Homo sapiens: one gene and its partners. The protein of the gene in region 3 interacts with the protein of the main gene of each other region in a pairwise test. Each region holds a gene or a part of one and is shown on either strand. Other genes may lie near its edges. The genes, in order: ZSCAN5A, SH3BP4 and NFU1.

Region 1 (3,750 bases), on a different chromosome or scaffold from region 3:
TATTCTGGGTGAATCCAACTCAATTGGCCGATGGCAGCTCACCTTGTATTAGAACTTAGGGGCTCATTTGGGGACCTGGGGGCAGATCCCTGCATCTGATACCAACCACTTTCCCTGCTTCAGGATGGGACTCCTGGGCCCCCCTTCAGTTCACTCTAATGCCTCCTTCCCTACATTCCATCAGGCCTAATATTTCACCAATGTCTTTCTTTCATGTTGGCCTCACACAGTGTGTGGGTCCCTGTACCCCCTCTGCCTGTCCATCTCCTACACCAGGAACTTGCCGTCTCAGCACAGCTGATATTGGAATCTGGATGATTATTTGTCATGATGGGTTGTCCTGAGCGTTAGAGAACGCTTAGCAGCGTCTCCTGTCCTCCCTGACAACAAAAACTGTCCCCAGACACTGCCATGTGTCCCCGACGGGCAAACTCTCCTCTACTTGGAAGCCCTGACCTAGAGCAGCCCCTCGGGTCCTCTCGAGTCCAGCTGCACCGTGCAGCCCCCATCCCAGCTCCCCTTCCCTGCACCAATCACGAGGGTCCCACTCACCCATTTCTTGGGTCTTCTGTTATTTCGTAGCAGGTCCTCCAGGTCTTTGCAGCTCTGCACACCGTTCATCATGACTAAGACCTGGAGCTCCTGGGGCATGGAGATCATGAACTGCTCCATCACCAGCATGTCCAGGATCTGCTCTTTGGTGTGGAGGTCGGGCCTCAGCCACAGATGGCACAGCTCAGTGAGTTTCCTCAGAGCCTGGATGGGGTCCGACTCCTTCGGGCAGCTGAACATCCTGAAGTTCACGTGAGAAATCTCAGGGTCCACGTCGTGATTTCCAAGTTGAGTTTCTGAGGATGCCATAGACCGTGGCAGCTCCAACCCAGGTCTGTTGCAGGATTCTCCTAGACTCCATGAGGATGTGCAATTTGCAGCCATATCTAGTGGAGAATTTTTTAATCAGTCTCTGAGAAAGCTCTTCCAGTAGCTGGTATCTAATTGATACCTATCTACACAGGCTTCCTCTGGTTTTCCTCAGTAATAGATTCACTGTTCATTCAGAAGTCTGGGGGGGAAAAGTATGAGCCTCATTAGTTTAAGTTACTACTCCATCCATCCCTCCCTTCGAAATCCCTCATCCTGGATGCCACTTCTTCAGCAGCATCGAATTCAGCACAGTGGAAATCTTCCAGTGTCTATACCTGACTACATACTCTGGTTTAAAATCTTAATGACCCCTGGATTCTGATCTCTAGGAAATCACTGTGCAGAGGCTGAATCAGTTTTCCTGTCAATTGGAACAACATTGTTCTTGACTATAAATTAAATAAGATAGTTAGGTGAAGCTCTGAAAATGTGATGCAACAATAAAGTAAGCCCTTTATGTTTCCCCATCAGGACAAGATCCAAGGCAAAGCCCTTAGTCATAATTATGCAAAAGGATAGAGAAAAAGAGTTAGAATGTAATATTTTCCCCAACACATATTCTTGTTAACTCCAGAACATTTACTTGCTCCAGGGAAGGGACAGCATTAAAGGATCCTATGAGGATTAAGCACCTACACAGATATTTTGTTATTTTGGTAAAATGTACATTCATAAATTTCATCATTTTTTACTCTCTTCAAGTTCACGATTTTATGGGACTAAGACATGCACCATGTTGTACAACCATTACCACTGTTTACTTCCAGAATTATCTCATCAACCCAAAAGCAACCCCATCCCCATCAGTGATCACCCCCTGCCCACCCACCCCAGCCCCTAGCAATCACTAATCTACCTTCTGTCTCTAAGGGTTTCTGTATTCCTAATCTCATCTCAGAAAATGGATTTAAAGTCTAGTGCTCTTTGATATTTTAAAGAAGTGGGTTGATACAATAATAAGATTTTTAAAAATTAATTCCTAAACCTAGCTTCATTAGGCAGGAGCCACTGAGTGATACTCTCCAGGCATCAATTATCGTCCAAGTTCAACAGCTATGAGAACACAGCCCTGCTTTCCTAGACACAGGTGGGGGAAGCAACCTGAAGGTCTGCAGAGGGGAGAAAAAACTGGCAGAAGGGTCTTGGGAAAAGTCACTGGTAGCCTGGAGGGCGAGTGCCCCACACTTCCTGGAAGGACTTTGAGCAAGTGCAGAACAGAGAGACAGCCAGGGAGACAATCGGCAGAGGCGGGAGACAACCCAGAGGAGGAGACAATATTTACACACCACACATCTCACGGGGCTCCTGTGCAAAACATAAGCAACTCAAACTCCTCCAGAGCGAGAAAACACATAACCCACTAGAAGGGCTTAAGGCGCCTGTGTGGACATCTCAGATGAAGACATGTGAATGGCCAGCAGGTCTAGGAAAAGGTGCTCATTATCACTCATCATCAGGGACATGCAAATCCAAACCACAAGGCACCCCTCACGCCTGCTAGAGTGGCTGTTCCCAAAAAGACACATGGAACGAGTGTTGGTGAGGATTTGGGGGAAAGGGGTCCTCTGCGCCCTGTGCTGGGATGTAAATTAGAGCAGCCGATATGGGAGACAGTATAGAAGCTCCTCAGAAAATTGAAAGTCCAACAACTGCATGATCCGGCAATCCCGCTCCGGGGCAGGTACACAGAGGAAAGGAAATCAGGACGTGGACTCCAAAACAGTGAAACTCTGGAGGGATAGAGGGAGGGAGGGTTGAAAAACTACCTATTGGGTACTATCCTCATATCCTGGGTGATGGGTAGAGTCATACCTCACACCTCAGCATCACTCAATATACTCATGCAACAAATCTGCACAGGTACCCACTGAATCTAAAACACAAGTTCAAATTACAAAAAAAAATTTAAAAAGAAGTAAATAACATAAATAATAATTAAAAACCCAGTGGAACTCATAGTAGTAGTGAGTAGAATAGTTACCAGGGCTGGGGTAGGGGTTGGGAAGATATAGGTCAAAGAGTACAAATTTCAATTGAAGAAATCAATTCAAAAGAGCAATTGTCCAACATGGTGACTTCAGTTCATAACAATGTATTGTATACTTGGAAACTGCTTAAAAAAAATTAGATTTCAAGTATTCTCAAAACCAAAAATGGTTAGTACATGAGGTAGGGCATATGAATATTAGCTCAATTTAGCCATTTAACAATGTTTGTAATACTACAAAGCATATTATGCTATATGCCATAAATATATACAATTTTTAGTTTTCAATTAGAAGCAAATTAATTTTTATTGAAAAAGCACACAGATATGATAGAGAAAAGGGAGCCTGAAATTCTGGAATTAAAAGTGGTTTTGCCAGAGGGCGCCTGCTGCTGCTCAGGAGGCAGAGGCGGAGGTGGGAGGATCACTTGAGCCCAAGTGTTTGATAACAGCCTGGGCAACATAGTGAGATCCTGTCTCTAAAAAAGAAAGTGGTTTCATGTTCCTAGAAATCACTTTGTATTTGATCTTAGTTCATTCCCCGTTAAAGTAAGAAACAAGACACAGGAAAAAATAAAGGCAGACACAGGAGTTAGTATTCAATTCTGGGAGTATATACCACACGGGTCACCCAGGTAGGGACACTTAGCTCAGATTCTCATTGGCCTAGTAGGTTGATGCTCATTCATCAATGATTTGATTTCACCCTGTGCAAAGGGAAAATCCAGCAATGCTTTTTAAAAAGGGTGTGTGGCAGGCAAAGTGGCTCAGGCCTGTAATTCTAACAGGTTGGAAGACCGACATGGGAACATGCTAGAGCCCAGGAGTTCAGGACCAGC
Region 2 (3,750 bases), about 170 Mb from region 3:
GAATATTGTCCTCAGGGCTCCACTGGACATTCCTGGAGTCTGTTTCCTGGGCAGGACGGCCAGGTGAGAGGCAGCCTATTACACTGCATGACCACTGCAATGAGGAACAGTAGAATGTTCCCCAGCGCCTTAAAGTACAGCCGCTGTCCATCCACGGATGTCAAAACGCTCTGCAAACCACCCATTAATTTTTATGGTGGCTTGAGAAGCAGATTGAGAATCATTACCTTCATTTTTACAAGGCAAGGAACCAAAACCACAGAGGGCGGTGAGGATCCAGGCCTCTCCCATCATTTCATCTGGGCCACGGATCTCAAGGAAAGCCCCCAGCCCACTGGGAAGGGGACTCGTGGCCAGCAGAGATTCTGCCCGGGTAGGGAGCAAGGAAAAAACCCAAACTTTGGAGCTCAGAGACGGTCACAAGGGTGAGAAGGGGCGGCTGCATTCAGGGATTCTCTGGTTTAGGCAAGAATGGCTCCAGTTCTAACTTAATGTTCAAATCTGCCAGGCTGTGACAAGGCTGGTAAAAAATGTGGGATTGGGGATGGTTTCCTGTTTGCTGTTTATATTTCTCTTTATCTCTAGCTTTCTGTCCTGAGCATACATTGTTTCTGTAATCAGAACAAAAGTTATGCGAACTTTATTATTATCACGGATAAATTCTATAGTTCCAATCTGCCTACTAACTTGGAAAGAATAAGCAGGAATACAATCTCGCACAGTGTTCTTTTTCAGATCTCATCGATCCATCAGGCTCCACGACCCTCTGCTCGCTGAGTCCGGCGGCTCTCCCGCGGCTCCTCCCGCGCGGCATCTCTGGGCGCCCGACACCCGGTCAGGGCCAGCTGGGCCTGTCCCCAACCCCCGTCTACACCGCAGGCCCCGGGCTAGGAGCCGCGGGACCCAGGGTTGGGGTCCCAACTGACACCCGCCCGTGCCGCGGAGCGGGCTTCTCGGTAAACATCGCTCAGAGAACAACGCGCCTCTATCCCAGCCGGTCCCCGCCCGCGGGCCGCCGGCGCTGTCACCTCGCGGCTGCTCGGTCACCCGATCGCCAAGCCAGAAACCGGAGTTTTCAATTTCATCCTCACAGGAGGGATCTCCGAAGAAGTTGAAATATGCATTGTCACCAACAAGTTTAACCGGAGACCGCGCGTCCTTCCCTCCTCCCCAGCGCCGCTCGAGGGGGGCGCCCCGACCCCTCCACGCCCTCCCGTGGCCCCCACGGCCCCCGTGAGCCGAGCGCGCCCCCCGATTTGCGCCCGAGGACGCGTCCGGTTGCCCAGGGAGGCCACCCCGCAGGGCCGCCCGCCGGGAAGTGGCCAGAGCCGGGGTTGGGGGGCGGCCCGAGCGCACGCGGAGGGCTGCGGCTCGGCGCCCGGAACCCCGGGCCGGGTCCCTGCCCACCAGCACCAGGGAGACCCGAGCGCCCGGGGGAGCGGCGAGGGGCGCGCGAGGCTTCCCCGAAGCCGCCCCACGCCCAGGCACCCGCGCAGCCCCGAACTCAGGCGGCGGTGGCACGATCGGCGCCCGCGGCACGATCTGCGCCCGCAAGGGAGTGCAAAGCCCCCGAGCACGACCCCGCGCCCCCGCCGGCCCCCAGGGCCCTGCCGCCCGAGGCGCTCCCCGCCGCCGCCTGCCTACCTGGCTCGCATGGCGTCCCCGCCGGCTCCTGAGGCTCCGCTCGTCGGCCAGCGGCTCGGCCCAGCCGGGGGCGCGCGCGGCTCCGCGGGACTCACGGCGGCGGCGGCGGCGGTAGTGGCGAGGGGCCCGGACCGCCGAGAGTGCCGGGCGCGCTGGGCCCCCGCCTCGGCGGGCGGAGGGTGGTCCCGCGCCTGGGCGGGGGCGGGGGCGGGGGCGGGGGCGGGGGCGCGGGGGGCGGGGCCAGGACCGGAGCTGAGGCCGCGGAGGGGGTGGTCCCGCGCCGGGGCGGGGCTTCGGGAGAGGGGCGGGGCGGGGCGCGGCCGTCTGAGGCTGGCGAGCGTGGGGCGGGCTGGGGGTGGTGCCGCGGCTCCGGGTCCAGGCGGGTATCCAGTCTGGGCGCCTCCTCTTCTTCCTCCGCCCGGAGCCGGCCAGGGTAGCGGGGCCTTGGCCGCCCGGCATCCTCGGGTCTGGGTCCCCGGTACCGAGCAGGTCTGGGTGCTGGCCCGCGCTCCTGTGCCCCCCCGCACCCCCATCTCCCACCCCTTCTCCGGGAACCCCTAGCGAGGACCCCTGGGGCGGTGCGGTCCCCCCGCGAGCGGGCGTGGGCGAGGGTCGCGCCGCGTTCGGAGACGCTTTACTACACCTTGGCTGAGGACAGTGGAGGGAAGGCAGGCGCGAGGCTGCGGGGGCCGGAGCGAAAGTTACAAACTAACAACAGGGAAGGCAGTCCGGCTGAAAATCATAAAAGGAGGAGAGTTTCCTGCGAAGCGGAATGCAGATTGAAGGGCTCTGGTCGGAATCGTTTACACTTTGTCTGACCTGGGCGCCTCTGGGCCCCCGGCGCGTAAAACAGGCCTGGCACGTAGTAGGCGCTCCATCAATGCCCAGTGAGTGAACGCACCACTTAACTATGTGGCCAGCAACGTCTATGGACCGACACATCTAATCCTAAAAAAAAAAAAAAATCCCAATTTTGGCTAGTCCATTTCACACGAGTAAACTAGAGCTCGGAGGGTTGGTTCGCCACAGAGGAGAAGGGTAGAACCAGAATCTGAACCGAGGCCGACTCCAGAGGCTGGGGTCTAACCACTGCGCCACTGCCTGGGGCCCTCGGGACTGCGCCCACCCCCACCCCGGGAACCCGGAGCCCAGGAGAAAGCGCGGGTCTTTGCCGGGGAAGAAGCCAACATTTGTTGCTCCTGGTCCTGAGCGAGACACACACAGTCAGTCCTCACCATTAACCCCGAGGCAGATATTGTTATTGTCCCCGTTTTTATAGGTGGCTTGAGACGTGCAGCACTATGTTATGATCGCATGGGGCGTGCCAGAGTCTGAATTCAAACCGGGTATGTTCAGACTCCCGAGCCCCTGCGGCTGCCCCTAAGGCCTGCCGCTCCTGCCGTCTGGGAGACCTTCCTTTCCCTAAGGAATCTGGTTTTCTGCCACTCCATTTGAAGTCTGTGTTGAAGTTTCAGGAGACACAGGTGGACAGAGGCACCGACCTAGGGCTCGGGAGAAGGGTGGACATTGCTGTTCCGATTTTGGTGTCATCTGTGTGTAGATCATGGAATTCCTGAAAATGGATACGAGTATCCCTAAAATACATGCCGCAGATTTTGAAAGGAGGCAGTGAGGCGAAGGGGCAGGTGGAGGAAGCAGAGAAGCCTCCGAGCAGAGGAGAGTTTCTGGGTGGCTAGGAGGTCTGATTGGTGTAGGGATGTGTCTGGAGTGTGCTTGAATCTCTGGCAAGTTATCTCGCCTCTCTGTGACTCAGTTTCCTAAATGAGTGTAAAAATGAAAGGCAGCATGTAAAGTGCTCAGCAGACTGCCTGGCACACAGTAGCTTTCAGTAAGTTTTAGCTACTATTAGTACTGCTATCCCAAATGACATCCACACTGTGTTTTTTAAAAAATGCCTATAAAAACATTGAAAAAGACAAGCCAGTAGAAAATGGACAAAAGCTATGAAGGTAATTCCTGAAATGCCACAAATGGCTCAAAGCATGAAAAGCTCCTTGACTATACTAGTGAGGGAGCTAAGGCAAAACATACACACACAAAAAACAATCGAATAAGAAAACTCAAGGCCTGTCCAGGCAGCTCAGT
Region 3 (3,750 bases):
CTTAAGCAGTTCTTTGCTACTTAATTGGGGGCTAGTAGCCAGATACCATTTTTAAAACAGACTTGTTTAGCTGTTTCTTAAGCTAAAAACTTCAGTAAAAATAGTTTTAGATATTTCACAAAAAGCTATTTTAGAATATTCTAAAAAGCATTCTGTTTCTTCCTGTATGGAAAAAAGTAAATAAATTAGATGGGGGGAAATGTATTTTAAACTCCTTCACACATATGCAAAGAAAGAGCCATGGGAAATGAGGGACAAAAATAAAAATATCCTTGGATAAAATCCACGTGTACAGAAGATGATTCAAGAGGTTATAAATAACTCATATGAGGTAAAGCAAACATGCAATATTTATATATCATTCTCTGAAGAGCATATTTTATTAATCTTCAAGTTCCTCAGCATATTAATAATAAAAACTTGATATATATTATCAACAAGTCTGACTGTTATGCCCAAAGAAAATCCAGATTATTTTAAGGTGAGTTTGCTTCTTTTTCATCTGATTCATCATCCATAACCTAAAACCAAAAAACAAAGACAATTTAAGAATTAAGAAAATGATTAGATTTTGCTGTTTTCCTGATTTTAATATTACTTCTTTACCTGATACACTCTATAATGAGGCATGACAAGCCAGTAAGAATAAATCTATCAACAGCCCCAAAGAACAAGGTTTGAATCATAACCCGGTATCCTAAAAACATAAAAGCAACCCCATCTCTACTGAAAATACAAAAAATTAGCCAGGCGGGCGCCTGTAGTCCCAGCTACTCGGGAGGCTGAGGCAGGAGGATGGCGTGAACCTGGGAAGCAGAGCTTGCAGTGAGCCGAGATCGCGCCACTGCACTCCAGCGTGGGCAACACAGCGAGACTCTGTCTCAAAAAAAAAATAAAATAAAATAAAAGCAAATTAAATATTTGGAAATTAATTAAAGCATTGATCACTTCTCCTTGTCTCAAAGAGGCTACCCATAGCAGAGTCTCAGCTGGGCAGAAAAGACTATAAATAATTAACTGGGGCCAGGCGCGGTGGCTCACGCCTGTAATCCCAGCACTTTGGGAGGCTGAGGCAGGCAGATCATGAGGGCAGAAGATCAAGACCATCCTGGCTAACACAGTGAAACCCCGTCTCTACTAAAAATACAAAAAATTAGCCGGTCGTGGTGGTGGGCGCCTGTAGTCCCAGGTACCCGGGAGACTAAGGCAGGAGAATGGCATGAACTGGGGAGGTGGAGGTTGCAGTGAGCCTAGTGCCTGGTGATAGAGCACTCCAGCTTGGTGATAGAGCAAGACTCCGTCTCAAAAAAAAAAAAACAATTTAACTGGTATTCTCTAGCCATAAGACTAATGTAAATGACTTTTTCTTTTTTTCAAAACCATCTTATTTACTTAAATATATTCTGTGAAGCTATACCAAATTGTTATTTTAAAAACATTTATTTTTATTAAAATGAATCCCCAAGGAAAGTGAAAAACAAAACAAAACAAAAAAACCCCACCATATTAGGAACTAATTATTTTAGTCTTACTGAGATAAAAGATCATTTTAAGCCTCAGGAAAATGTTACAACAGCTATTATCTTTCCATGAGTTAATGTATTACTAAGATAACAGACTAACTCCATTGGAGAAGGAAAAAGTTACATAAACCTAAGAATGTTTTTTTCTCCTCACCACACCTACTACAATTAGATGCCAATTCAAGTTTCTAATCTGAAGGCCAATTCATCACCCTACCCTGGACAATTGAATAAAAATGTTCCTCAGTCAATCCACCAAAGTATCAACTAACATAATTTTTTAAGGCATATAGATGATAATGGAACAAAGTAAGGTTTTTTTTTTTAAAAAAAATCTAGGCCAGGCACAGTGGCTCATGCCTGTAATCCCAGCACTTTGGGAGGCTGAGGCAGGTGGATCACCTGAGGTCAAGAGTTCAAGACCAGCCCGGTCAACATGGCGAAACCCCCATCTCTACTAAAAATATAAAAATTAGCCAGGCGTGGTGGCGCGCGCCTGTAATCCCAGCTACCTGGGAAGCTAAGGCAGGAGAATCATTTGAACTCGGGAGGTGGAGGCTGCAGTGAGCCAAGATCAAGCCATTGTACTCCAGCCTGGGCAACAAGAGTGAAACTACGTCTCAAAAAAAAAAAAAAAAAAAATCCAGATTCTGGCTCTGATCTGAGACAATCAATAGAAAAAGAATTCTTTCATAGGCTGTCTTTTTGGTTGAGTAAAAATTGGTATTTATTCCCAAGAAATTAATATTTTACATCCAATTTCAACAATACCCAATCCAAAAAATTTTGTCAACCAACTCATATTTTAGGCAGAATTATTCCTTAATTTGGAATAATATTCCCAAATACTTAATACAAAGCATGTATAGGACATTTGTAAGGCACACAGCTAGTTGTTGCAGAGGAACACAAAGACTTGGATATGATTTCAAGTCTCTTAGGGAGCTTCCACGTAAACATAAAGCTAAAACAGATACAGAAAGCTACATAAACATAAAGCAAAAACAGAAGCTTTGGACCTGTCAAAGAAGAACTTAATTCCAAGTGGGGGATGGATAAAAACTTCAAAGAGAAGATGTCATGTACTGGACCAAAACGATGGTGTGGAGGCTAAAGCAACTCCATCTTGGATGCTAATCTGCCACATTGACTACCCTCAGTTCTAGGAATGCCTCTAAGTTTTCTACTTAATTCTGCCTTTAGGTCAAAATAATCTTGATGTTATCCTAAACAAACACATACTTAGCATAAATCTTGCCCTTAAGCAAATTATAGGCTATTAGGCAAATAGCATTCTTGCCTTTTCCAGAGGGGCTGACTTCAATTGTCCTACACATATCTTCTGAAGCATGTATACCCATTCCTCCTGGTATATAAGCCCTGAGTCTAGCGGGTAACAATGCAGGAATCCATCATCTTGCAGCTGCCCGATAAATGGCTTCTGTTCCTCAGTCCCTATTAAATGTTTCTTTCTGACCAACTGGATTTGCCAGCCTCTGTCTTCAGCCTCTCAGCTCCCTAAGACTTTGGGGATAGGTCTATATAGACCTGCTCACTGTGGAACAGATGAATTTTAATACTACCCAAGGATGAGTGATTCCCAATGGAGCCCTTAAGGGCACAGAATTACCTGAGGTGGTCAGGCACGGTGGCTCATGCCTGTAATCCTAGCACTCTGGGAGGCCGAGGCGGGCAAATTGCCTGAGCTCAGGAGTTTGAAATCAGCCTGGGCAACATGATGAAACCCCGTCTCTACTAAAATACAAAATACAAAAAATGGTGGCATGTGCCTGTAATCCCAGCTACTCATGAGGCTGAGGGATGGGAACTGCTTCAACCTGGGAGGTGGAGGTTGCAGTGAGCCGAGATAGCGTGTCACTGCACTCCAGCCTGGGCAACAGAACAAGATTCTGTCTCCAAAAAAAAAAAAAAAAAGAATGAATTACCTGAAATTCTGTGGGTTGGAAATTTCTAATTTCCACACATCCCTTCACTCCTTGATAATCTCTCTCCATAAGGCCATGCTTTTTGGTTGAGAATCACTGCAGTGAGACTCATTATTACTGATGACAAGGTGCTGTGTTATACTCCTTAGGTATGTTGGCAAAAAAAAAAATGTTGATATTGTGCTACACGTAAAGCTCTAGAATTCTACTCAGTATAACAACAAACTATGATTTCTTAATGGGCTTCTTGCTTGCATATTTAAGAATACATAGATTAGGCC

The links.
Region 1: the proteins of NFU1 (region 3) and ZSCAN5A interact in binary tests that used the Homo sapiens proteins (3 or more experiments, as listed by UniProt).
Region 2: the proteins of NFU1 (region 3) and SH3BP4 interact in a two-hybrid assay, tested with the Homo sapiens proteins (one study listed by BioGRID and IntAct).

What each region holds. Positions count from the first base shown.
Region 1 is NC_000019.10:56,224,111-56,227,860, forward strand, and holds part of ZSCAN5A (zinc finger and SCAN domain-containing protein 5A), read right to left. Parts: intron 1,064-3,750; 5' UTR 937-1,063; coding exon 553-936; intron 1-552.
Region 2 is NC_000002.12:234,950,065-234,953,814, reverse strand, and holds the start of SH3BP4 (SH3 domain-binding protein 4), read right to left. Parts: upstream 1,799-3,750; 5' UTR 1,645-1,798; intron 1,101-1,644; exon of another isoform or gene 1-1,100. UniProt on the Homo sapiens protein: May function in transferrin receptor internalization at the plasma membrane through a cargo-specific control of clathrin-mediated endocytosis.
Region 3 is NC_000002.12:69,395,770-69,399,519, forward strand, and holds the end of NFU1 (NFU1 iron-sulfur cluster scaffold homolog, mitochondrial), read right to left. Parts: intron 522-3,750; coding exon 477-521; 3' UTR 357-476; downstream 1-356. UniProt on the Homo sapiens protein: Iron-sulfur cluster scaffold protein which can assemble [4Fe-4S] clusters and deliver them to target proteins.